Homo sapiens: one gene and its partners. The protein of the gene in region 7 interacts with the protein of the main gene of each other region in a biochemical or structural test. Each region holds a gene or a part of one and is shown on either strand. Other genes may lie near its edges.

Region 1 (4,221 bases), on a different chromosome or scaffold from region 7:
TAAACACCTAAATTGCCATTTTATTAAAGAAAAGTCAGGGCAGCATCATATATGCAGACAGTCCAGGGGGGTGCTAAGAAAAAAGGATTGATGGAGGGGGGTGACTTTGAGAGACATTTCAGTGGCCTGCTGCAGCACACCGCAGGCTGCTGTGCGTTGAAGAGGCAGTGACAGGTGAGGAAGTAGAAGTAGAGAGTGGAAACCTTGACCGCAGAAAGCTGGCTGTGAAGGAAGGGGCCGCAGTGTGTTTGTTGGCCATGAAGAAGAAGCTGCACAAGAACAGGGGAAGAAACTGAACAGGCGAGACAGAGTGGGAACATCCTGTTGAGTCACAACTGAGTTGTCAACACTTTCTCCGCTAGTGCGAGGCCCTTTAAAAATTCACTGCCCGCATGTGGCTCCAGAGAAAACACCTCAAAGAGAGAAGATAACCTGTCCAAGTGAAGGCAGAGAAATCAGCACAAGATTCAGTAACAAATTCGCTTTTCAGGACTATTATTGTGGCTGTTTGGTCTATTACAAAAGCCCAGCTCAGAAACTACAAGGTCAAGCTTGAACAGATGTGCAGAGATGTTCTGGACCCAGTCTAAAAGCTGATTCTTCCCAAAGGCACAACATTATTAATTGGCCAGCTTATCAATGGATGCTCTTTCCTGTAGGTTTGTTTAGAGACAATACTGCTAGTCATAAAGTTTGCTGATTGCTGGCTTGCTCATCTCGGTGGGGCAAGTGCAAGGCCGTGCCAGGAACTCCAGATGACTGGAACATACACAAGCACAGTGCTAGCCATAGACACCAACACTGAGCCAGGGTGCGGGGGAGCCCGAGCAGGGGGCATCCTCAAAGTGCTTCTTTATTTAAACTATGCTCTGGGGCAATGTTTCATAATGACCCCACACACCTAGCGCGTACACACAGAGCAGTCTACACACACAGCCTCACTATGTCCGCTGGCCTGCTGGCTTTGCTTTCCACCCCTCTAGGCAAGGTCCACAAATTAGCAGCCTTTTAACCCTCCCAGGTCTCCGTTCTCGGGACCTTCAGAAGAAAAAGGCAGTCAGAGAAACATGAACGCGCTAATCAGGAAACCAGCGTTTCAGCCCACTCAGCCACGCGGGCCGTCCACACTAACGACTTTCACCTCCCCTCGCCTGGGCTGGCTGGAGGGGCGGGGAACCCGGCAGTAAAGAGGAGGACCAAAGAGGGGCCCTGCTTGAATGAAACAATGTAACAATTGATGTGAGGCCTCGCCTCGCTCCCACTCCCCAGCGATCCTATAGGCGAGGTCCCAGTGACTGCCCCTCCCCATTGCTCCGTTTTCTTGTCCATTACGCGCTATCCCTCCGCCTCTCCTTCTTTCTTTTCTTTTCTTTTTTTCCCTTCTCCTTTTCCCCCCTCTCTCCCCCTTTCTCCAGCTCCGTGTCATTTCCTCCTTGCGCTCGCTCGCTGCCTGAGCGTCTCCAGCCGGGAGAGTAGGCGGAGCAGGGCGGTGCGGGGTGGCGTAGAGCTGGAGGGCGATGGTGGCGGAGCTGCTGGGGGCGGAGGCAACGTAGCCCCCTCGGAAAAGGAGCCCGGCGGCGCCTGAGCCCAGCCGAGGATGGAGAACCGGCCTGGGTCCTTCCAGTACGTCCCTGTGCAGCTGCAAGGGGGGGCACCCTGGGGCTTCACCCTTAAGGGGGGTCTGGAACACTGTGAGCCGCTCACAGTGTCTAAGGTAAGAACTGGCGGCTGATGTCCTAACGGCGCCTAACTTTGAATGGACAAGCGGGTGCGAAGGCTGCCGCTGGACGGGGCCCTCAGGCCAACTTTGAAACTTAGGGCTGGGAGCGAAAGACCCTCTGAGCGGCACGGAGGGGTCTTGCCACCAGTCCAGGTGCAGACATCCCCTAAGGGTGGCTGGAACACGAGCTGGGAGCACAACTGGCCCCCGGCTAGAACCTTGCGCGCAGACACACTCGCGAGGGCGCTGGGGCAGCCCTTGCTGCCCCACGTCGGGGCGGCTACTTCCCTCAGTTTGGGCCGAAGGAAGTGGAGGCTGTTGGGGATTTCTCCTTGGAGGCCTCTGCGTCCCTGCGGGACAGTGAAGGACTGAAGGGACAGTCATCGCGGCTTGGCAGCTCTCTTGGCAGCGTTGTCCCCTCTATCGACCGGCGGGCCGTCCCTCCCAGGCAGGTTGCAGGGCTAGGGGCTGGTGTGGGAACGGAGATGAGGCCATTGGTGGCTTTTGCCAGCCACACTTCCCACGGCCGGACGCGCACACATCCATTCAGCTCTTGGGGCGTTGTTGCCGCCGGTTCGGCTCGGCCTCTCCCTCCCTCCAGAGTCCTGCCCCAGCGCCGGCGAGATTTCCTGCACGTTGAGAAGTGTGGAGGAAACTTGCGCCATGGAGCGCAGCTGTGCTGGAGCTACTGCTGTTGCTGCTGCCGCTGCCGCCGCCGCCGCCGCCGCCGCCGCCACTGCCGCCGCCGCCGCCGCCGCCAGGGTTTGTTTGTTTTAGGAGTCTGTGATCTGCTGGAAGCCAAGTTGCAGCTGAGGACAGGAGAGAGGAGCTCTCCTGAGTGCTCCAGAACCCCCAAAGCGAGCCTCCCCCGTAGGGGTGAGGGCGAGGGGTAGGGGCAGCTGGAGCTGTTACCAGGAAGAGTGACTTGTGGGACGACTCACCTTGAGGTGCCAGATTGCCAAGTGAACGGACTTTACGAACTTTATTCCACTTTTTTGTTGTTTCTCTTAAATCCTCAAATCCGAAAAGCCCTCCCGCTTCCAACCCGCTTAAATGGCAGTTGAAGTTGTAGATGTGGGTTCAGGCTGGAGATAGAAAGATGTGTCTTTTCAGCAGGGAGCAAATATCACTTTTTTTTTGCGGGGGGGTGGGGTTCAACATTGGTCACATCTCAGCAGAGGGTTCAGCAAACGTCCACCGCAACACACACCCACAATAACCTGTGCGGCATTCGCCTTGCATTGGAGCCTGTGGTTGACTTCCAGTGTATGGGATCCTTCAGGCCTTGGGGCCCACACTCTTAGCAACCCTGGAGTGTTGCCATGGGTGTACCAATCAGATTGAGGAGTCTGAGGTATGCTGAGGCAACATTTTGAGGGGCTGGCAGGGACCCCTCTGATCATTAGCCTCCCCAAACTAGCCCAGATCTTCATCCAGCACCCTTTCCCCCATACTTGTCATGTACTTTAACCAGCCTGAGATGCGTTTGTCATCCACTGTCACAACCCCTCCTGAGGCAGTCTCCCTCCAGTGTTCTCTGGAGAAAGTTATATGCTTTTTTTTTTTTTTTTTTTTTTTAACAAAAACACTCAACTCCTTTGGTGAGGGGAATCCTGGCCTTCAGGAATTTCTTCTAATCAAGCTCCTCCTCTCCCCACTCTTTCCACCAAGGTCACAATGGGATATGCAGCCCTCCATGATCTGGCAGTTCCTCCCTTTCTTTTTCTCCTCACACCGCCCACAGAATTTCCACAGTCTGCCTAGACAACCTGCCTTGGAGAGGTCATTTTTCAGCTCTGCCCAGAGCTGACCCATCTTGAGAAGCACCCCAGAGAGTGCTTGCTGCTGTGGTCCCGGATTATTTTGTGAGCCAGTGAGAGCATGGCAGGGGGTGTTACTAAGTATGGGGCAGCCAGCAATTTGTGGTCTGGCTGGGGGATTATTTGAGAGGGTAGATGAGGGTTTCCTTGGCCAAGCTGTAGAGGAAGTGCTTCGTGTGTTGAGAGGCAGGGTGCCTTTTAATGATTCCCTTTCCACTGAATGTACAGTTGACCCCTATTATATGAAGGCTCATTATGACATGCATTTAGATATGCAAGGGATAAAATTATTTCTCCCATTCCTCCCAAATAGCCTAGTTCTTAACAGTAAAAGTCAGTTATAACTGGGTTGGCTTCAACGGTATATAAAGGGACCATAGTATTTTTTTAAGCACAATGATTGCCTGTATTGTGTTTTTCTTGACAAGACACTGTTTTGGCATATTTCATTAATTCCCTCTTCATTTTTCAACCTTGATTTTATTTCCTTTTATGATTCAGAACAATACAGCTTTCTCCTTGAAAACAGCCTTCTTAGTCTGTACACACTGGTTGGGATGGGTGGAAGGTAATAGAAAGATAATTGGGTTGGCAGATTAAAAACTTGGGTTCTAATCCTTTTTCTGCCACTCTCTAGTTCTGGAATCCTAGGTATATCACTTGCCCTACCTGGGTCTAGGC
Region 2 (3,500 bases), about 37 Mb from region 7:
TGGGTACAAGGGGATGGCAACAGCCTTGGTTTGGGTGGCCACCTTCCTCTCCTCTCTAGAGGACCCCAAGAGTGACACCTGGAGGCCCCTTTCTGGGCTGGATGCTATCGCCCGCTCCATGTTCTCCATGGCTTTCTCATGAAAACTAGATAGTCGGTTTGGTGACATGAAGTCACAAGGGGAGGGTGGTGGGCAAGGAAAGGGGAGGAGGGGCTGTCTCAGAGGCTTGGGGGCTAGGCGGGGATCCTAAGCTGGCCTGAGCTCCTTGGTGAAATACCCCCAGTCTCTTCTTTCACATCCGAGTCCCTGACTCAGCCCCTGCTAGGCCTCAAAGAGATGTTTGCGCAACAAATGACCAACCCATTCCTTTAGTGCCTCCCTCCAAGCCAGACTCCCGCTGCCATCAGAATTCATCCTAAAGCACCCAATCACCTTTTACTGACTCTACTGTCAGCTGAGCAAAATGCAAAGACCTGGGGCTGGCAGGCAACAGGCCTCCCAGCCTCCTCTCTGCTCTTTCATATTTTTAATGCTGTATTTGACACTTACATAACTCACTCCACCAGACACTACTCTAAGTGTTTTTACAAATATTAAGCTACGAATCCTCCTAAGAATAGTTGGTATTCTTATCCCCATGGCCCGTATCCTCATATTGCAGATGAGGAAACTGAGAGACAAAGCGGTTAAGTCATTTGCCTGAAGTCGTCCAGCTAACATGTGGCAGTGCTGGGGTTTGAACTCAGTAGTGTGTTCCATGGCACATACCCTCGACCCCTCAGGCTCCACCCTGGATGCTTCTGGCAAACAAAACACCGCGGGTCCCTTTTCCACGTGGCACCACGTGGCATCCGGTGGTCTCCCTACCTGGAATACCACTCCCCTCTCTACTCAGTGAATTCTCCCTCATGGTTTTCCTCTCAGACCCTGGGCAATCAGCACTAATGTGCAAATCTGCATCCCCGGACAGGCTGTGAGCCCCAGGGCCTCACATTGCTTCTAATGGCATCCCCAGAGTGTAGAAGTGCTGGGTGTGGTTTGAAGAGTGAGTGGAGGGAACAGCGCATGGTCTGGACTCAGCCTCATGGATCCCGCTGACAGCACAGGCTTCAGGTGGGCACAGAGCCCCAGGAGTGGGCCAGCTCCCGAGAACTTCCTGCTGCACTGGGTGGACAAGTCTGGTCTGGGCTGAGCTCTGGTGTCTCAGAGGCAACACTGAAACCGATCCCTGATGGGAATGCCAATATATCTCCCTTAGCCTCCCAAAGGGGCCCCTTTGTTATAAACCCCTCGCGGGCCCCCACTCTTCTCTGGTGACCGTCCCATCCTTGTCTTCTCCTGTGTCTGCAGAGGGCTCCCATTCCCCATCTGCTGGGAGAAGCATTTCCCCCTCACCCCTCATTCAATATTAACACCCTGGCCGGGCGGGTGGCTCATGCCTGTAATCCCAGCACTTTGGGAGGCTGAGGCGGGCAGATCACCTGAGGTCAGGAGCTCGAGACCAGCTTGACCAACATGGAGAAACTCCATCTCTACTAAAAATACAAAATTAGCCGGGTGTGGTGGCCCATGCCTGTAATCCCAGCTACTTGGGAGGCTGAGGCAGGTGAATCGCTTGAACCTCAGAGGCAGGGGTTGCGGTGAGCCGAGACCGCGCCATTGCGCTCCAACCTGGGCAACAAGAGCAAAACTCCATCTCAAAAAAAGAAAAAAAAAAAATTTAACACCTCCCCCCTCAACTTTCTGACCATGTTGCTCCCTCCCCCATCAGCCCCCAGGGCCCCACCCCACTCTCCAGGCTTCCACACTACTCACACAGGGGACAAAGGCCTTCACAGTAGGTTTAGCTTCAAAGGCCCAGAGGATCTGCCTCTGACCAGCTACATGACCTCAAGCTAAGCCTTTTAACCTGCCTCAGCCTCAGTTTCCTGATCTGATAAATAGGGCTAATGCCCACCCTCGTCTCTCTCAAGGGAGTGTTGCAGGCTTGAAGGAGAAAGTGTTTGTTCCTGGGAAACAATTCCCCAGTTTACTGAAAGTTTTAAGAAAGAAAATAGCCGGGCGCGGTGGCTCATGCCTGTAATCCCAGCACTTTGGGAGGCTGAGGCGGGCGGATCACGAGGTCGGGAGATCGAGACCATCCTGGCTAACATGGCGAAACCCCGTCTCTACTAAAAATACAAAAAATTAGCCGGGCGTGGTGGCGGGCGCCTGTAGTCCCAGCTACTTGGGAGGCTGAGGCAGGAGAATGGCCTGAACCCGGGAGGCAGAGCTGGCAGTGAGCCGAGATCGCACCACTGCACTCTAGCCTGGGCGAGAGTGAGACTCTGTCTCAAAAAAATAAAATAAAATAAAAAAATAAACACAGAGGCCTAAAAATTAGGACAACTACTTCGGAGCACAATTTGGCAACATCTGTCTAAGCTGAAAATACACAGACCCTGTGAGCAAGCACTGGTGGAGAGAACACAGAGGGATCGCTTGCAATAGCGAAAAACTGCACACCACCCAAGTGTCCGTCAACAGAGCCTGGGCAAATAAGCTGCTGTTACACAATGGAATCGGACGTGGAGGTTAAAATGGATCCGTGAGAATTCATGTTTAGGATGGTTAAATCTCCAAAACAATATTGAGGGAAAAACCTAAATGCAGAATATGCCTGGTATACCATTTAAACCAGAGTAAAATCATACGAAACAGCACTGTATGTTGCTAGGCATGAATACCTATGTAGGACAATTTTAAAAACAGGCACAAGAACATCACACACACCAAAATCAGAATTGTGGTTTCCTCCAGGGAGTAAGACACAGGGGCCTCCATCTCTATCTAAAGCAAATATGGCCTAATGCTAAGCTCCAACCAAGCTAGGCAGTAGGTGTCACCTTATTCTGCACACTTTTCTAACGCCAAGATATTTAATGTGTTTAGAAAGATTTCAAAATCATTTCTTAAAAAGACTCCAGAGGCTGGGCACAGTGGCTCAGGCCTGTAATCTCAGCAACTCAGGAGGCCAAGGTGGGAGGATCACTTAAGGCCAGGAGTTCGAGACCAACCTGGGCAACATAGCAGGACCTCGTCTCTACAAAAGAAAGAAAGAAAGAAAAAATGAGCCCGGTATGGGGGCCCCCACCTATAGTCCTAGCTACTCGGGAGGCTGAGGTGGAAGGATTGCTTGAGCCTAGGGGTTTGAAATTACAGTGAGCTATGATTGTGCCACTGCACTCCAGCCTGGGTGACAGAGGGAGATCCTGTGTCCTACAAAAGACCCCTTGAGGGAGACCAGCCCCCTAGAGCTCCCTGGGTCTACCAGGGATGGTTTTGGCAGCCTGTCCCTCACCCTTTCAGGGCCCTCAGGATGGAAGGAAGGTCTCCCCCAAGGGGATGCCTTCCAGAGGTGGGTGGGTGGTGGCAGGCTGTGTCAGTGGGGTGTCCGTGTGGGTTGGGGAGCAAGAACCAGCTTGCCCCCTTTCACAACCGCCCCCGCCTCTCTCTGTAAA
Region 3 (3,500 bases), on a different chromosome or scaffold from region 7:
CTCGTCTCTGCCCTCGTGGGACTCCCCATTTATTAGGAAGGGCAGGCCTGTGTGTAAATAGTCCCTGCAGTGGGACAAGTGCTACAATGAAGGCTGAAGTGGAGGCAGCAGTCATTCTGCCTGGCAAGGTCAGGGGAGGGGTCCCAGAGTGGGGCAGGGCAAGGATAGCCACCATCTCTGGGTTGCATGCTTTCCCAGACTTTGTCTCCTTCCACCCTTGCAGCAACTCTGGGAAGTCAGTGTAACTACCCCACCCCATGTTACAGATGGGGAAACTGAGTCCTCTCACAGTTGACTAGTTTGTACAAGGTTTGTATCTGGTAGAGCTGGAAGCCACACATGACCCTTCCCTTCTCCCTGGGAGGAGGTGACATTTGAACTAAGTCTTCAGAGATGAAGTGTTTGCCAGGCAGACAGCATGAGGGTCAGAATGCTGGTCCCTGGGAATATTCTGCCTGAGTCATGAGGCGCCATTGCCAGAATACTTGGTCCCTGTGCCTACACCATGAAAGTGGAGGTGGAGGGACCCACCCAGGACTCCTGCCCTACCACCATGGCCTCCATGGCTATTGGGAGCACCTAAGGGTGGGGGTGCCCCACAGAGTCTTTCTCCCAAGCGTGTAAGTTCTGACAGTGCTCCCCCAATCTCCTTTCTCTTTTCCAGAATGGACAGACCTCAGGGGAAGAAGCTGGACTTCAGCCGTCCAAGGTGAGGACCATGGCCAGCACCCTGAGCGAGGGGCTGTGGGGGATCCTGTTTGCATGGCTTTGGAGGAGGTTGAGGGCTCCAGCCTCTAGCCCCTTTGCCCAACTCAGCCGTCCTTCTCAGGGCCCACCGAATCCTTGTGGCAACCCTGGGCATAGAAATCACTTGTTCCAACCTTCCTATTTTGTAGGTGAGGCGACTGTGGCCCAGAAAGGGTCAGGAGCAGAATCCAGGTCAGGGCTCTGGTTACCTGTCACCCAGGCCAGGATGCCCCTGCAGTTTATTTACTCATGGAATTTGGGCTGGCTCTAAGGAGTGATGGGAGGGGCTCAGGCCAGCTGTCCTGCTCCTTTTGGTAGAGCTGCGCTTGCCAAGAGCCTGGAAGTGAGCATCTGGGCACGTGAGCTGGAAAGGGGGTGCTGGTGGCCGCTCAAGGCTAACCAGGCCCATTGCCTGGCATGTGGCACTCATGGCATTTCTTAGGGCTTCCACTTCCCAGTGTGAGGGTCATTCCCTCACCCCTGCTATCTCTGCTTCCCCTGGGCCCCTTCCTGTAGCCCCCTAGCCCCTGTTGCTGGTTTTGTGTTTTGCCAGAAGCACCAGGACTAGGTGACAGTGGTGTGACCTTGGGGAGGTTCCTTGTACACTCTGGGCCTTGGCTTTCTCATCTGTATATTGGAAAAGACCACATCCCCTTCACAGGGTGGCTGTGAGGTCACAGGAGATGCTGGCTATGGAGGGTCTTTGGAAGCTGCTTAGGCAGGGACAGAGCATGGTGTTAGAGCAAATCCGGGTTCCAGTCCTGGCTCCATCCCCACCATTTAACCAGAAGCTCTTCTCCCTTCTGAGTCTCAGTTTCCTGAGCTGTAAGTTGGGGAAACAGTGTCTGTCTCACAGGAGCAATGTGAAGGACGATGAGATAGTAACTGCCTGGCACATGGCAGCTTCGGTGCCAGCACCGAAAATGTCCTAGTATATTGCTCAGCTCAGCTTCCTGCCAGTGACCCCACCTTCCAGACCTAGGTTGGCTTGAACACCAGACCTGCCATAAGCTTGACCTTTGAGATGGATGCAGGATTAGTCCTGATGTTTACCTTGACTCAGCTTCCTAAGATGAGGTGACTGAGCTGGGTAGGATAGGGCAGGTGAGGGAAGTATTCTCGCACCACTTCTCTGTGGGTTGCTGTGGCAACCTTGGACCAGCAGAGGCCAGTAAATAGTGTGGACTGGGCCCCTTGGTTTAGCTCAGCCCATGTCTGCAGAATCTCCTCCCACAAAGTAGCTACCTCTTGTTGCCTAGTAACAAAATGAAGAACTGTAGGTTCCCAGTGAAGAAACACGGTGTTCAGATCTCAGGGCTGAGGTTCTGGGGGTTGCAGAGGAGCTTGCAGCATTTAGGGACCTGTGCTGAGTACAGCTTCTCACCTCAAGAACTGGAGGAGCTTACTGGGAGATGGCAGGAGCTTGCCGAGGCAGGTAACCTTTTGCTCCCAAGCCTATGACTCTTGCTCTAGAGCAGAAGATCCTGGGGTAGGAAGAGAGACAGGGCTGGAGATGGATGGGACATGGAGTCTCGAATGCCACTTAAGGAAGAGAAAGAGCTTAACCTATGCCTAGCATCATACCAGGTGCTTTGCATTTAGTTCTAACTACATCCTTGGAGGTAGATTGTTACTGTCCCCATTTTACAGATGAGAAAATTGAGGTTCAACATCACATAGCTGGTGGGCAATGAAGACAAGTCTTGTTTGGCTTCAAGGTCATTCCTCATAGTCCAGAGAACCCTGAGTGCTGAAGAGGAGGAGCACTGGCTTTCTGTGATTCCAAGTGGGACCAGTCCTGGGCACCTGCTCATCCATCTGTTGTCCCAGCCACCAGTGTCCCTAATGCCCACTTCTGGGCTTAATACACCAGGGGGCGCTCAACCTGTGGTCCGGACCTCATCACTTTGTGCAGTGGAATGAGCTGGCAATGGGCCACTTTATCCTAATCAGACATTCGGTGCACCCTGTTGTTCACAGGAGGGCCTAAAATGAAGTCAATATCCCCCACCTTCGAGAAGCTTCCAATCTTTGGGCAGAGGGTAGAGACAGGAAAGCCATGTGGTAGGCGCTATGATGGGGCAAGAGCACAGCTGTGGGCACATAGAACCTCTGCTCTGTGCTAGGCCCATGTTGGGCAGAGACGTATACCACCACCTTCCAGGTGCCCACATTTCTCTCCGTAGCATGACGAGATGAGCACGTCCCCGGGAACCCAGCTGATGGCATCTGAGTTCAGGGCTGAGTGTGGACCAGAGACATGGTCATTGCCGTGCATGGCCGAGGAAGAAGAGTTGGGGTGGGCTCTAGGGCACAGGCCATGTTCCCTGCGGAACTGGCATTTGGCTGGGACTCAAAAGGCAGGATTTGGGCAGCTGGAGAAAGAATTGGGCCTTCCAGGTGGCAAAGAGGCAGGGAAGAGAGTCAGGGATTCTGAGTTCAGAATCCTGCACCTATTTTTTATTTGCCTTGTAACCTTGGGCAAGTCATTTGCCTTGCTGAGGCTCGGGTTCTTTCCTGAAAAATGAAAGGAGAATAAAGCCTATTTCTCAGGGCTACCTGGAAAAGAGAATGTGGTACATATAAATTAAAGTATCTAACAGGGCTTGTGGCACAATGTTGCTGTTTAATGCTTGTTTATTTTATTCATTTCAGGCAGAAAGCGGGATTTGGGATTTGGGATTTGGCTTTTAGCAGCAATAGTGTGGATAGCCATCCAGGGTGAGAACTCTCTGGATCCCCTCAGCACCTAG
Region 4 (2,322 bases), on a different chromosome or scaffold from region 7:
TTGGGCAGAAAGATGAGGAGACAGAGGTCCAGGGTGGGTTACATAGCACATCCAGGGCTAAGCAAGAAATAATTCAGAGGTCCTACCCTCTGTCTAGGGACCCCCCTCCCAAGCCTGGCCTTGGCCTTGGCACAAAGTCCTCCTTGATAGGAGATCCCACTCACTCCTGGAGGCTGCCCCTGAGGCTTGGCCCAGCTCTAGGAGCAGTCCCCAGGGTCAGGGAGCCCCTGGTGTGGAAAGAGGCCCCAAGGTAGTAAACCCTGCCCCTGTTACTGTGCTCCAGAGACCTCCTAAGGGAAGGGACAGTTCCTGGAAGGCCCTCCAGCTGGATGCTGGGGATCAGCGATAGGTGAGGGGACACAGTGTAGGAGCTCCCCATGTAGAAAAGGGAATGTGGGGAGGGCGTTAGGAGCTTGCAGGCATTAGGACTGTCCTGAGCAAGGTCTGCAGCCCCCAGCTCTGCTCACCCCGAATCCTGCCCCTTGTTTCCACACCTACCATTCCTCCTCTCCTGATCCCCAGCATCCAGCTGAGGTCCAAGGTCTTTGTCCTAGAATCAGAGTGGGGAGGGGACAGCCTGGGGCTGCCCAGAGACTGTGGGTGGAGCTGCCTGCTGCACTCAGCAGTGCGGTCAGAGAAGGGCTTTTGGTCTTGAAGTCCAGGTACCATCCCCCCTTAGCATACAGGGGGAAGGGCCTGAGAGGAATGTAAGGAAACCAGCCCAGATCAGTCCCAAGGCCAGAGTCCTTTGTCCTACATCTCCCTGAACCAGAGTGTGCCCTGCCCCTCATGCTCAGACCTCTCCCACCCCAAACCCTCTCCCGGGACTCAGTCTCCCTGGCCACTGCGTATCAGGCTTCTGGGGAAAGCATCCATCACAGAACCTCCCCTTCCCTGCCACGCACCTTCCTTGGCCAGCTCCATTCTGGCCTCCTCCACCACCTGCCTTGTGACCACATCTCCCACCACGTCCCCAGATCTCAAGAACGCAGCTCAGCTTCTCCTTCGAGCTTGACTCTGAGAGGGAAAGTGACGGAAACCAAGTCAGATGAGATGACTGCCATGTACACTGCAGTCAAGGGCAGGGAGGGGAGGAATGACACAAATGGCAGGGAGCTGCTGGGGGACTGACCCCTCGGCGCCTGGCCTGGCCGGTGCTGCACATCCACCGGGGCACAACAGGGACTTGTCCAGCCTCTGGTCAGAGGATGTGGCCACCTGACCCTAAATAGGTTCCCCAGAGTCCTGCCCCTCTAATGAATGAGAACTGCAGGAGTTTCTCCTCTGGGTGCCTGAAGCTATAGTGCAATGGTTCCCAACCCTGCATGCACATTCGAATCACCTGGGGGCACAATGCCTAGGCTCCAACCCCAGACACTCTTATTTCATTGGTCTGGGTGGACCTGGCATCAGAAGTCATGTAGCTCCTCAGGGGACTGTAGTGTGTGGTCAGCACTGAGGGCTCCTCTATGAGGCCTCAAGCCCAGGTGACTCTGTGAGGTCTGCAGAGGGAGAAAAGAACCCACAAGGGAAGAGGTGGAGGTCAGGCACGGTGGCTCACGCTTGTAATCCCAGCACTTTGGGAGGCCGAGGTGGGTAGATACCTGAAGTCAGGAGTTCGAGACTAGCCTGGCCAATATGGTAAAACCCCGTGTCTATTAAAAATACAAAAATTAGCTGGCTGTGGTGGTGGGCACCTGTAATCCCAGCTACTCGGGAGGCTGAGGCAGGAGAATCGCTTGAACTCGGGAGGTGGAGGTTGCAGTCAGCCAAGATCGTGCCACTGCACACCATCCTGGATGACAGAGCAAGACTCCATCACAAAAAAAAAAAAAAAAAAGAAAAGAAAAGAGGTGGGTAGCCGGGCGTGGCGGCTCATGCCTGTAATCCCAACACTTTGGGAGGCTGAGGTGGGTGGGTCACAAGGTCAGGAGTTCGAGACCAGCCTGGCCAACATGGTGAAACCCTGTCTCTATTTTTAAAAAATACAAAAATTAGCCGGCTGTGGTGGTGGGCACCTGTAATCCCAGCTACTCGGGAGGCTGAGGCAGGAGAATTGCTTGAACTCAGGAGGCGAAAGCTGCAGTGAGCCAAGATTGTGCCACTGCACTCCAGCCTGGGCAACAGAGCAAGACTCCATCTCAAAAAAGAAAGAAAGAAAAGAGGTGGGGAGAGGAAGCCCCACTCACTCCTGCCTTTCCCAATACCAGGCTGTTCTGTGACACGCCCACATCTTCCCAATCAATTCCCCTTTTGGCTGAAAAAACGTTGAGTTTGAATCCTGTCCCACACAGCCAGAAGAGCCCTACCTAACAGGATTTG
Region 5 (3,500 bases), on a different chromosome or scaffold from region 7:
CTGCTAATGATTTTCTTTGGCTGAGATCTCTAGCAGGAAGGGGGCAGCCAGAGGGGCACCGACGGAGGGGCAGATGGGCCTCTGTGGGGGCTGCTGGCTCCGCCTTGGCGCTGCTCCCTCCTGACCAAGGAGGCCTGGCATCCAGCTGGAGGGGCTGGGGCAGAGGAATGGTGGGGAGCAGAGGCTGGAGGGGGCGTCAGAAGGGCTGGGCTTTGAGTCAGGAGCAGTTCAGAGAGGGGAGAGGAAGAAACGAGGAGACCTTCAGGCAGGCAGTCTGAAAGGGAGGAGGGAGGAGAAGAGCTGATTTGCTCAGACTGTTTCTTGGGGTGTTGGGAAGAGCTAAGATTGGGGGTCCATAGGCGGGAGGAGCCTTGCCTATGTCCCACCCCTGACATGTGAATGCAGCCCTGGTAGGTGAGGTACTCACCATCATCCACTTCCAGAGCTGGGGACTTAGGCCACAGGGAGAGCGATGGCACAAGAGGTGGCATGCTGGGGCCTGAACCCGGTCTGCAGACCTAAACTGAAAACTAAAAGGGGTGAGATGGGGAGGTAGGGGCAAGCTGGGCATGGCCTTCAGAGGCAGGCCAGGCTGGGCAGCCCCACAGCCAGAGGAGGCTCCTTGTTGCCTCATCATGCCGTCACCTCCCAAAGCTCATGCTCTGCGACCCCTGTCCTCTGGCGTCCTTCCTGCCAATGCTGCAGGCAGACTCTTGGCATACTTGGCTCCTGGTGGTCTCTTGGGACCTGAGGTGTGTCTTCCAAGATAGAGGAGAGCAAGGGCCACCCCATTCAGTCTGTCTCTGTCTTTGTCCTTGCTTCTGTCTCTGTCTTTGTCCTTGCTTCTGTCTCTGTCTTTGTCCTTGCTTCTGTCTCTGTCTTTGTCCTTGCTTCTGTCTCTTAGTGCCTCTGGTGCTGTCTCTCTGGGCACCTCCTCTCTGTCTCTGTGTCTTTGTCTCTTTCTACTTCTATCATTCCAGGTCTCTTTCTCTCTGTCTCCCTCTCAGACAGGCTCTGCTGTGGAATCTTGGGTAAACTTCTCACCTTCTCAGAGCCTCAGTTTCCCCATCTGCACCCTGGGGGTGGGGGTGGGGGGAGCCTGGCTTCACTGGTCTCCAAGGACCTGTGAGGCCTGGCTGCTCGATGGGACCTCTCCTGGGCCCAGCCCCTAGCCGCTGTCCCCTGGGCCTCCCTGTATGCTCTGGGCTGAGTAAAGGTGTCCAGGCCCACCTCCCACATTCCACAGCCCCGGCTCCCCGGCTTCCCTTCCCACAGCCCACAGCCTCCTCCATTTCCTGTTGTGCTTGTGGAGCTGCGGGAGTTCTCTGGGTTCTGGCCTCCCCCCTCCTCCTCCCATCCCTTTCATCACACTTTCCCAAATATTTGTCCTGGCAGATAAGAGCCTGGTATTGGAACTGTCACCCGGAGGACAGGCTGTCAGAGCTGGTAGGCTACTGGATACCATCCAGCCCAACTTCCCCTCCCTCACTGTACAGACAGGGAAACTAAGGCACAGAGAGAGTCTGGGGACGCAGCCGAGGCCACGTGAGAGTCACAAGCAGAGCCAAAGCAAAGGCCAGGACCCCAAGGCTAAGTCCGGGATGGAGAGGAGACAGCCTGTGGTCATGAGTGCCCTTTCAGGCTTGGGACGTGGTGGCTTTTGACTTCAGCCCCTCGGACATGAAGGCTGGGTGGCCCAAGCTGGGGCTCATTCTGCAGGAGCCAGGTGGTGAGATAGCCCCTGTCGCTGCCTCCACCTGCCCTGGGCCCTGACTCCTGTTTAACTCTGCAGGACACCATGCGGCTTCCGGGTGCGATGCCAGCTCTGGCCCTCAAAGGTGGGTAGATGGGAGATAAGGTAGGGGACCCGGGGGGCTGCGGAGTGGAACCCTGGAGCTGGCAGGGGTGATGTGTGCTGGTGGCAGGGCGTGAAGCACCAGGCACACTGCCCTGCCCTTCAGCTTTAGTTTTCAGGATTTCCAGTGGGCTCTGTGGAGGCCTCCAGCTGCCAGCCCTTCAGCTCAGAAAGCGTCAGTGGGCCCCTGCTTGTCCAGAACCATCAGCTCAAATCCTTTGATTGGCCCTCCAGACCCCATCCCACCTTCTGGCCCACACCCCTGGCCTCCTATCCTCGGTCTGGTGGATCTGTGGCACTCGGCTTGGACCCCTCATTGGCTGGGAGCTTCCAGGTCCCTGCTGGGCTTCTCAGCACACCCCACCCCTCACTCCTGCCCGTTAACATGTCTTCAGCTCTGCAGGGGCTGAGCGACTGACCCAGCAATTAATGACCAGCCAGCAGCCTGCCCGGCAGCTGGCCATAAGATGGACTGGCTGCCTGACCGCCCACCTCCCCTCCTGATCTGTATCACCAGGGGGCATGGAGGGCGTGGCCTGAAAAATCCTTCTCCAGGGGATGTCGTGGAGGGGGACCAATCACTTGACACACACACACCCCCAACCCCAGTTCCCTCCAGCCCAAAAGGGCCTCAGCATCTTTTCTGGCCCCCCTCTGAGCTACCTAAGCCCCTCCCTCCCATCTCTCTCCCACCCAGAGCCACCTCTGGGCCTTGGGCAGAACCTGGGCAGTCGGGGGAGGGGGCAGAGAGCTGTAGGGAAGAGGCTCAGAAAGTGACCTGGGAAGCAATGCAGGAACTGGAGGCCAGGGAATTGCTTCCCGAGGATTTCCTGGCCCCTTCTGGTGCCTACTGCCTACACATGGCACTGCTGAAGGACTCAGAGGCTGGGGTCTAACGGGACTGACAGAGGCAGTCCAGAGGAATCCCTGGGGCCTTGGAGCTGGGCGAGCGGTCCTCAGAGCCATGGCTGGAGAGCCCCAGTCTGTCGGATAAAGGAGCTGTGCTCCTCAAGGACCTGAGGGCTGTGCATACGTGGCCTCCTCGCAGGCTCAGCCTTGGGAGAGGTGCTGAAGCCCCTGTTTCCTGATGTCTGATACCTCCTCTCCCAAAGGCGAGCTGCTGTTGCTGTCTCTCCTGTTACTTCTGGAACCACAGATCTCTCAGGGCCTGGTCGTCACACCCCCGGGGCCAGAGCTTGTCCTCAATGTCTCCAGCACCTTCGTTCTGACCTGCTCGGGTTCAGCTCCGGTGGTGTGGGAACGGATGTCCCAGGAGCCCCCACAGGAAATGGCCAAGGCCCAGGATGGCACCTTCTCCAGCGTGCTCACACTGACCAACCTCACTGGGCTAGACACGGGAGAATACTTTTGCACCCACAATGACTCCCGTGGACTGGAGACCGATGAGCGGAAACGGCTCTACATCTTTGTGCCAGGTAAGGGCTCCCAGCCTGTGTGCCCACTCCTTACCCCTCTTGTCAACTGGAGGCATCAGGGGAAGTCCAGAGAGTGCTTTAGTTTATTGTGAAATGCAGCCATCCTAGAAAAGCAGACAATCATGGAACCAGCCTGGCTCAGTCGGGGAGTGTGTTCGCACCCACTCCTTGGTCTGGGTGATCTGCCTGCTCCCTGCCAGTCACCCTAT
Region 6 (3,500 bases), on a different chromosome or scaffold from region 7:
AGACAGAGGTTGAACAACAGGTCTTCAAACAATACTGCATAGTGTCACGAGTTAGCTCTTAAGCACGTTTGATCTGTTTATCTTATGATTTCGATTCCAGTACAAAGACAGAGAAGAGACTTAAAAAAAAAAAAACAATAAGGCAACAGAAGAAGAATCTTCCTGTGACAAGGAACGTCCACAAATAATGCACAAATATTTGGTGCTGACACAATAAGACACCATCAGGACAAGTTCTGAAGATGCTGCATTAAAATTTAACAAGCATGATACAATGACAAGAAAATTATACTCGCTTTGTTACGAATCCTTTTGCAAGTAGAAATGACTCTCGGGTAATTGTTACATACAAACTTTCTGAAATAAATGGAAATCATACAAATTTTTCCATTGCAGTTTCTTCTTTCTCTACACCTAGAAATGTCCCATGGCACTGCTCCCTATTCTCACAGTCAACGCATAAATAGTCATTAAAGCACTTGAATCCACAGTAGTCTTGTCCTTAGAAAGGTTGGGAGGTTTTGCATGATTTTCTATCAGTAATCCAGAAAGGGCTGGCAGGCAACAGGTTGGAATGTAAAAGACCGCTTTGTGCTTGGACTCCTGAACTCCGCGCTGTTCCCCTCAGGAGTCGCTCGCACTGTGGACAGGCCCAGTGAGGACAGTCATACCGTGGAGTCTCTGCCAGACTTTAGCTGTGCAATCTTGGTCCGGCTAATAAACGGATAAGCGATGCAGAGACCTCCAGCTGCCACAATAAAGCCTAAACTGCACCAGGCGCAAAAGATGGACCAGCTGTAACCATGTTCCACATCAGCAGGCAGGCTATAAATTAGCTTTGGGAGCCGGTTCAAATCATACGAGATACTGGCGGCATAAGTACAGAGGGAAATGGTGCAAAATATCCCTATAAATAATACAAAGAGAACAGAATGATTAGTTACAGTTTGCCTGTTACAAGACAAATGCCAGACAGGCCTTTATGAAAATCAGATCAACCACTGAGGCAGTCACTCCAAATTCACAAATGATCCATAATTATTTTACTTGAATTAATTCATATAACAAACATTGGCAAAACTTCTGTGTGCCAGACCCTACACTAGGGAATGGAGATGCAGGAGTGAAAGAGACAGGAAAATTCTGATAACCTGAATTATTCAGAATTATCTAATTCAAATGGTTATATATATTGGAATTCTTTTTTTATTCTTAAAAACAATAAAAGTTCTATTTTTAAGAGAAAAACTTCTATAATCACTCAAATCAAGCACAAAATAGTTTTCATTTTCCTTCGCTCTCCACCTAATTTCATACAGTTATTCTGTTGTAATCGTTATACAACATCTGCTTTCTTTTTCAATTAACATTATCATAAATATTTATCATGTTGCCTTAAATAATATTTTAGATGAAGTCATACAAGTAGCTAAATCTTTTTTGTTAAGGCACAGTCTTACATATACCATATGATGTAAAATAGCTGAGCAAGGAGATCATCCATTTCAACCATTCAAAATGGAGGCAATTGGAGTGACATAAGGAACATGGACAGACCCAAAACTTTGCTTTTTAGACCAATCCATGTGTGTGTAATTTTCCTTCTGCAACACTAAAATCAGGACTGATTTTAAAAATACTTCATAAGCCCCAAACACAGGATTTTTAGTACTCAATTCATGTGGATATAGGTGCTTCTATTCCACCGCAATGGACCCTCAAGATGCTCCTTTTGGATAGGCAGAGGATCAGAGTGTGGTGAGTAATAAAAACAGAAACTGGCACCCAATCAAGTATCAGAATGTCCAGTTCTGTTCTGAATCCTACACATCTCTTCTTCATAGTCTGGTTTATCCCTGTATACAACAGAGACAACATTTATTGACTGGAAAATTCCTTTGGCATCCTTAGGGATACACGTAGCATCTCCACTGGAAACAGAGACACAGATTTTGAAACTGAAAAGAGAGAGCTAAAAGTAGCAGATTACCTCTCCAACCCATTCAAAGCTCCCCGCCCTCTACCCACCACCCTTTTTTAACCTATAGCTTTGGAGATTAGAAATGCTAGCAGAAAAACAAATTCAGGGCAGGCAGCAATTTGGAGGAAATAAAGACCACCTTAATGCCATCTTTAAAATGTTAGAATTCTGCCTCCATTCAAATCATGTAAGAGCACGTTGCCTGAATCCGCTTCCAAATGTGCACTTAGACAATAAATGTTCTAAATTAAAAGGACACTGGATCTGAGATAATTTGATATTTCCTACTCTTTGCTTAATTCTGCATTTAAACTCTAAAGTGATTCTGTTTTACTAAAAAGGATAAAATCTTTTCTTCTGACTTCTTGCTCCAATTTATTACAGCAAACATATCACTTTGAGTTCTCAAAGAGAAAAATCAAGATGGAAATAATTCTCTCATAAAGTAATGGGCCATTCAAAAAAGAATACTCCACTTTTCTCAAACCTTGTGAAAAGCAAATGTTCTTAGATCTACACAAATGTTTTCACTGGCACCAAAACAAAGGCAGTTTTTATATATAACAAAGCCCTTTTAATAAATGCTGGTAATAGAACAATAGGCAGTTAGAAAAAATAATCTTTGGAGCATCAACAAGTAAAATAGAATAATAGAACAATGACCTCTTCACAGGAAAAACAACTTTATTCTGCATTTAGCTGTTTGCACATAGCTGAATGCCTAAAAGCAAGCATTTTTACAAGTAACATTGTTTTAATGACCTATGAAAGCTTGAGTTCAAACCTAGACTTTTAAGCATCCTTTCATGTCCAAGTGCATTGGGTTGGGATGTGAGAAATAAGTATTCTAGTTTCCAGCTCTACTAAACACTGTGCAAACTTGAAATTACCTAACCTCTCTGAGCCTTGGTTTCTTCATCTAGGGAAAAAAAGAGTGGGAAACTTGATTACTGAAGTCCCTAAGAGTGTCAAATTTCTGTGATTCTGTTATTCCAAAATGAAACATGAAACAAGAATATTTATTAAAACTTCCTAGTGAATCTAGTACTCAGCTTATGCAATTAAATGAAAATGGAATGTCCTATGTATCTATCTTTCTGTATATACTCCCTCTGATTTTACACTTAACATTTCTTTCATTAGCTCCTCTCCCCTGCCAACCCCATAAAATTGCTTTTGATGACATGAATTCTATCATTAAACCACCGGTTCATACTGAATAGAAAAGAATTACAAGAAACAATCTAATCTGGGGATTTAACCAGAATGATTTCTCTCTGCTCTCAGTGTCATGGATGTTTGTGCTTTTCCTGGGGAATTGATTTGTGCTTACCTCATGGACACTGTGAATGATGTCATTAACAGAATTTTTCTTTATCCAAGTTGCCAGAGCACTGAAGCTCCCTAAAGCTAAATCTGTAGCCCACCATGAGCAAAAGTATGGGATTTCATGGCATGCTTTTGGCTTCTAATCTCACTCTTGGATCCATCTTGCCTCAGAAACCTGATTGTCCCTTTG
Region 7 (3,336 bases):
AATGAGAGTCTCTTTCCAAAAACAGGCATTGTTCATCTTACGCTAAACATCATTGTCTGCCTGGCTACAGTCACCAAAACAAAACAGAAATGCAAAATTATGCATCTTCCCATAGTCCTGAGGCTTCCTTTGCCAATGGAAGGGCTAGCAATGCATTCTCCCTCTCATGAAAGTTAAATTTCCAGAGACTTCCTTAGATTGCTCAAAATGTTAAAGATATGTCCATGTCTGCAATTCGCCAGTTTCAGGTCAAGGCCTACTTTCATCAATATTGCTCCCAGAAGTTTTCTGACACCAGAATGCCATTCCTGATCCCAGCTCTATTTTTAGGCCACCACGATAACTTCTTTGGTTTCTCAACTGAGCATGCAACCATTTATTTAAAAGACTGTCATTAATGAGTAGATGTTTTCGCGGGTCGTGTGATGTGCTTTCCATTTACTAGTGTTGCTGTGGCTAAGTACAATCAAATTGAACCACCAACCCTTGGTTTTGTAGTAATATAACTATTTATTTTCCTAGTGTAGATGCTTTCAGATTAGAATTGGCATTTGCACTGATTTTTTTATGTAGATTTATATAAATATATAGATACATATATATTTGCTTGAAGAATCACCAAGCAAATTGGTGAGAGGGTCTTTTCCAATAGAATTTACACCTCCATTTGTTGTGTTGTCTTGCACTTCCCAATGTTGATGTCTCTATGGCTCCAATGAACTGGTGTATTTTGCAGCAAATCTGATGACTTGTATGGAAATGGCATGAAAGTTACCCAGATTACATCTGGTGCAAATGCACTCGGAGCCTGGGGCCAGACTGGTGCTAACACTGCAAACTTTGTCCAGAGCTCTCTCCAACCTGAAGGCTTGCTGGGGGTGCAATGTCACCTTCACACATGCTGGGCCCTTTCAGAAAAGTGCCAGATCGTGTAACTGGTGCTATTTTTCATGCTCTGGTACAATGTGTAGCACCACGGGGGTCTCAGCTTTACCAAAATCAAAATTCCATTTGTCAGCTAAGTGCAGAGGCATTTGTTTTTTGCTCTCCTCCCACAGAATTGTCGGCCATTTATTTGCAGGCCTTTTGCGGGATTTCTTGGCTATTTATTTGCAGGCCTTTTTTCCCAGCCCCAAATTCTTGGGTTGGCTCTGTCTGCTTAAAGAGCCTGTCTTCACAAAGCTGCACTCGGGTGCCTCTGTGCGCTGTCTTAGATCCTACTGCCGGCCCTTCAGGACTCCGAGCCAGGAAAGAACTCTCCAACCTCTGGCTCGAGACTCTACTTTTTTTCTCATTCTTTTCCTTACTCTCCTCCTCCTTCTACTTCCGACTAATTCCATCTCTTTTTTTTTTTGTTCCTCTCCTTTTCCTATTCCTCCTTCCCACCATCTCTGAGTTGTTGACTTTCTCCTATAATCCTTCTCTATTCCCTTTCTCTTTTTGTCCACCTCTCCTTTAGTCTCTGTTTCTCTGCCCTTCTTATTCCTCTTCTGTCCTTTCTCCTCTCCTCAAATCTCTGATCATCTTCTCCCGTACATCCCTGTATTGATTTTTCTGTCCTCTAAAGGGCTCATGGCTGATTCAGACAGCAAGTCCATGCACTGGACTAATGACACAAATACTTTAGGTCGCCGTTTCACCTACTCAGCCCAGAAAGTAAAGCTGAGCGTGAGGCCCTGACCTGGAGCCTGCTCCAGCCCGCCTCCCGGAGCCAGCCTGCACCGTTGCCCTGGCAGCGATGATGCATGTGCTGTGGGCCCTGCCGGCGCCTGAGTGCCTCTGCCTGAACACTGCTCCTAAGCGAGCCCACTCCCAGCACTACCGCATGGCTCTGAGGACATTTTCTTTCAATAAAGGCAGACTCTGGCCCCAATTATTCTGATAGCAAACCTCTTCCTCCTCATTGAAGCCATGCCATCACCTTGGTTTGGAGAGAGACATTTTTTTCCCATTCATAAGCTTTCTTTTTCCCATTTTTATGTGAAGCCCCCTCTGCTTTTCAGCTGGTGATTGCTCTGGTGAGACTGAATGGACTTGCTGGTGAAATGAAATCTCTTCTTTCCTGTCTTGGTCCTGCCTAAATTCCTACAAATATATTTAAGCCAAGGACTCAGGCTAATTCCTAAGTTGATCACATTAATTTGTTACTCCTAGAGGGAAAAAGATCAATTCCCTTGAAGCATGTGGAGTACCTCCTGTGACAGCTGACTTGCCAGGGGACTCCCTACAGAATTCTGTGATATACATTTTACTTCTGTGTATGTATGGTATATATGGTATGTATACCATGTACACACGTTACATTGAGTATGAATGACTGTGGTTGGAAACACACACACACACTCAAGTCTGTAAATATCCTTCCTCACTGAAACCTGTGCTTTGGAAATCATTTCTTGTACAGCTGTGCAGTTTCTTGTAACAGCTGAGGACAAAGCTAAGACAGGCGGACAATTTAGACAAAGATCATCTAAAGAGTATAGTATCTCCCTAGCAACTCATGAGGACAGACAACCAAGTGGCAAGGTTGACTCCCAATGGGATGGCAGACTTTTCTTCTCTCCTTTTTGAGTTTGTGTTTCCTAAGTGTTTCTTAACTTCTGAGTGCACCAGGCTGTACCCGTTAGATCCTTTCAATATGACAGTTTTGTGCTTCTCTCTGACAGGATGTTTCTCCACCGAGCTGTAGCACAGGATGGGAGGGAGGTGGGAATACTCCTTGCCTAGGCTGGAGTTTACAGAGACACTGCACAGCTTACACTCCTGTTAAGTGTAAATATTCAACACTTCCATTCCATTTGTGTAAAAAATAAAGCACACACGATTATAAAATCAAGATGTATATTTCATACTCAGTGTGTCTGTGCATATTTATTGCGTTTCTAGTTGTCAGCGGTGGGTGGCCCCATTGTAAAAATGCCTGATAGAGTGTTTATAAACATGTCATGGTTTTATTATAAGATATAAATATTAAAACATTTTATACTTTATGGCAAATGATTTTCTCCCAAAGCATAATTTGTCTTATTTCATAAGGAATAGAATCACTCATGTCTATTTTTATCAATTTTGTCTCTGATTCCAGAGCTAAAATGCAATTAGGGTGGGTATGCCCTGAGAAGTATTGGCACTGCTGAGAGGAAGTGAAAGTGCTGTTTTTGCATATTCTTAAATATTTGGTTACCATCTTGCCTGCTTTTAATCGGGATTTTTCCAAAAGTGAACAATGTATTAAAAGATAGATTTTTAAAGATGCTCACAGCTATGTGAGGGGAAAAATCAATTTCCCAGTGTCAAACTGTGGGATTCCAGAAGATATTAAGGATACAGAAAAAT

The links.
Region 1: the proteins of DLG2 (region 7) and SHROOM4 interact in a test that uses a peptide from one of them, tested with the Homo sapiens proteins (one large-scale study listed by IntAct).
Region 2: the proteins of DLG2 (region 7) and DGKZ interact in a test that uses a peptide from one of them, tested with the Homo sapiens proteins (one large-scale study listed by IntAct).
Region 3: the proteins of DLG2 (region 7) and RPS6KA1 interact in a test that uses a peptide from one of them, tested with the Homo sapiens proteins (one large-scale study listed by IntAct).
Region 4: the proteins of DLG2 (region 7) and CLDN19 interact in a test that uses a peptide from one of them, tested with the Homo sapiens proteins (one large-scale study listed by IntAct).
Region 5: the proteins of DLG2 (region 7) and PDGFRB interact in a test that uses a peptide from one of them, tested with the Homo sapiens proteins (one large-scale study listed by IntAct).
Region 6: the proteins of DLG2 (region 7) and TMEM178A interact in a test that uses a peptide from one of them, tested with the Homo sapiens proteins (one large-scale study listed by IntAct).

The regions. Positions count from the first base shown.
Region 1 is NC_000023.11:50,811,395-50,815,615, reverse strand, and holds the start of SHROOM4 (protein Shroom4), read left to right. Parts: upstream 1-1,421; 5' UTR 1,422-1,597; coding exon 1,598-1,714; intron 1,715-4,221. UniProt on the Homo sapiens protein: Probable regulator of cytoskeletal architecture that plays an important role in development. May regulate cellular and cytoskeletal architecture by modulating the spatial distribution of myosin II.
Region 2 is NC_000011.10:46,353,963-46,357,462, reverse strand, and holds part of DGKZ (diacylglycerol kinase zeta), read right to left. Parts: intron 1-3,500. UniProt on the Homo sapiens protein: Diacylglycerol kinase that converts diacylglycerol/DAG into phosphatidic acid/phosphatidate/PA and regulates the respective levels of these two bioactive lipids.
Region 3 is NC_000001.11:26,536,261-26,539,760, forward strand, and holds part of RPS6KA1 (ribosomal protein S6 kinase alpha-1), read left to right. Parts: intron 1-664; coding exon 665-709; intron 710-3,500. UniProt on the Homo sapiens protein: Serine/threonine-protein kinase that acts downstream of ERK (MAPK1/ERK2 and MAPK3/ERK1) signaling and mediates mitogenic and stress-induced activation of the transcription factors CREB1, ETV1/ER81 and NR4A1/NUR77, regulates translation through RPS6 and EIF4B phosphorylation, and mediates cellular proliferation, survival, and differentiation by modulating mTOR signaling and repressing pro-apoptotic function of BAD and DAPK1.
Region 4 is NC_000001.11:42,732,593-42,734,914, reverse strand, and holds the end of CLDN19 (claudin-19), read left to right. Parts: 3' UTR 1-1,822; downstream 1,823-2,322. UniProt on the Homo sapiens protein: Forms paracellular channels: coassembles with CLDN16 into tight junction strands with cation-selective channels through the strands, conveying epithelial permeability in a process known as paracellular tight junction permeability.
Region 5 is NC_000005.10:150,135,346-150,138,845, reverse strand, and holds part of PDGFRB (platelet-derived growth factor receptor beta isoform 1 precursor), read left to right. Parts: intron 1-1,792; 5' UTR 1,793-1,798; coding exon 1,799-1,838; intron 1,839-2,967; coding exon 2,968-3,291; intron 3,292-3,500. UniProt on the Homo sapiens protein: Tyrosine-protein kinase that acts as a cell-surface receptor for homodimeric PDGFB and PDGFD and for heterodimers formed by PDGFA and PDGFB, and plays an essential role in the regulation of embryonic development, cell proliferation, survival, differentiation, chemotaxis and migration.
Region 6 is NC_000002.12:39,714,417-39,717,916, reverse strand, and holds part of TMEM178A (transmembrane protein 178A isoform 1 precursor), read right to left. Parts: exon of another isoform or gene 2,655-3,500; intron 908-2,654; coding exon 666-907; 3' UTR 1-665. UniProt on the Homo sapiens protein: Acts as a negative regulator of osteoclast differentiation in basal and inflammatory conditions by regulating TNFSF11-induced Ca (2+) fluxes, thereby controlling the induction of NFATC1.
Region 7 is NC_000011.10:83,454,673-83,458,008, reverse strand, and holds the end of DLG2 (disks large homolog 2), read left to right. Parts: 3' UTR 1-2,836; downstream 2,837-3,336. UniProt on the Homo sapiens protein: Required for perception of chronic pain through NMDA receptor signaling. Regulates surface expression of NMDA receptors in dorsal horn neurons of the spinal cord.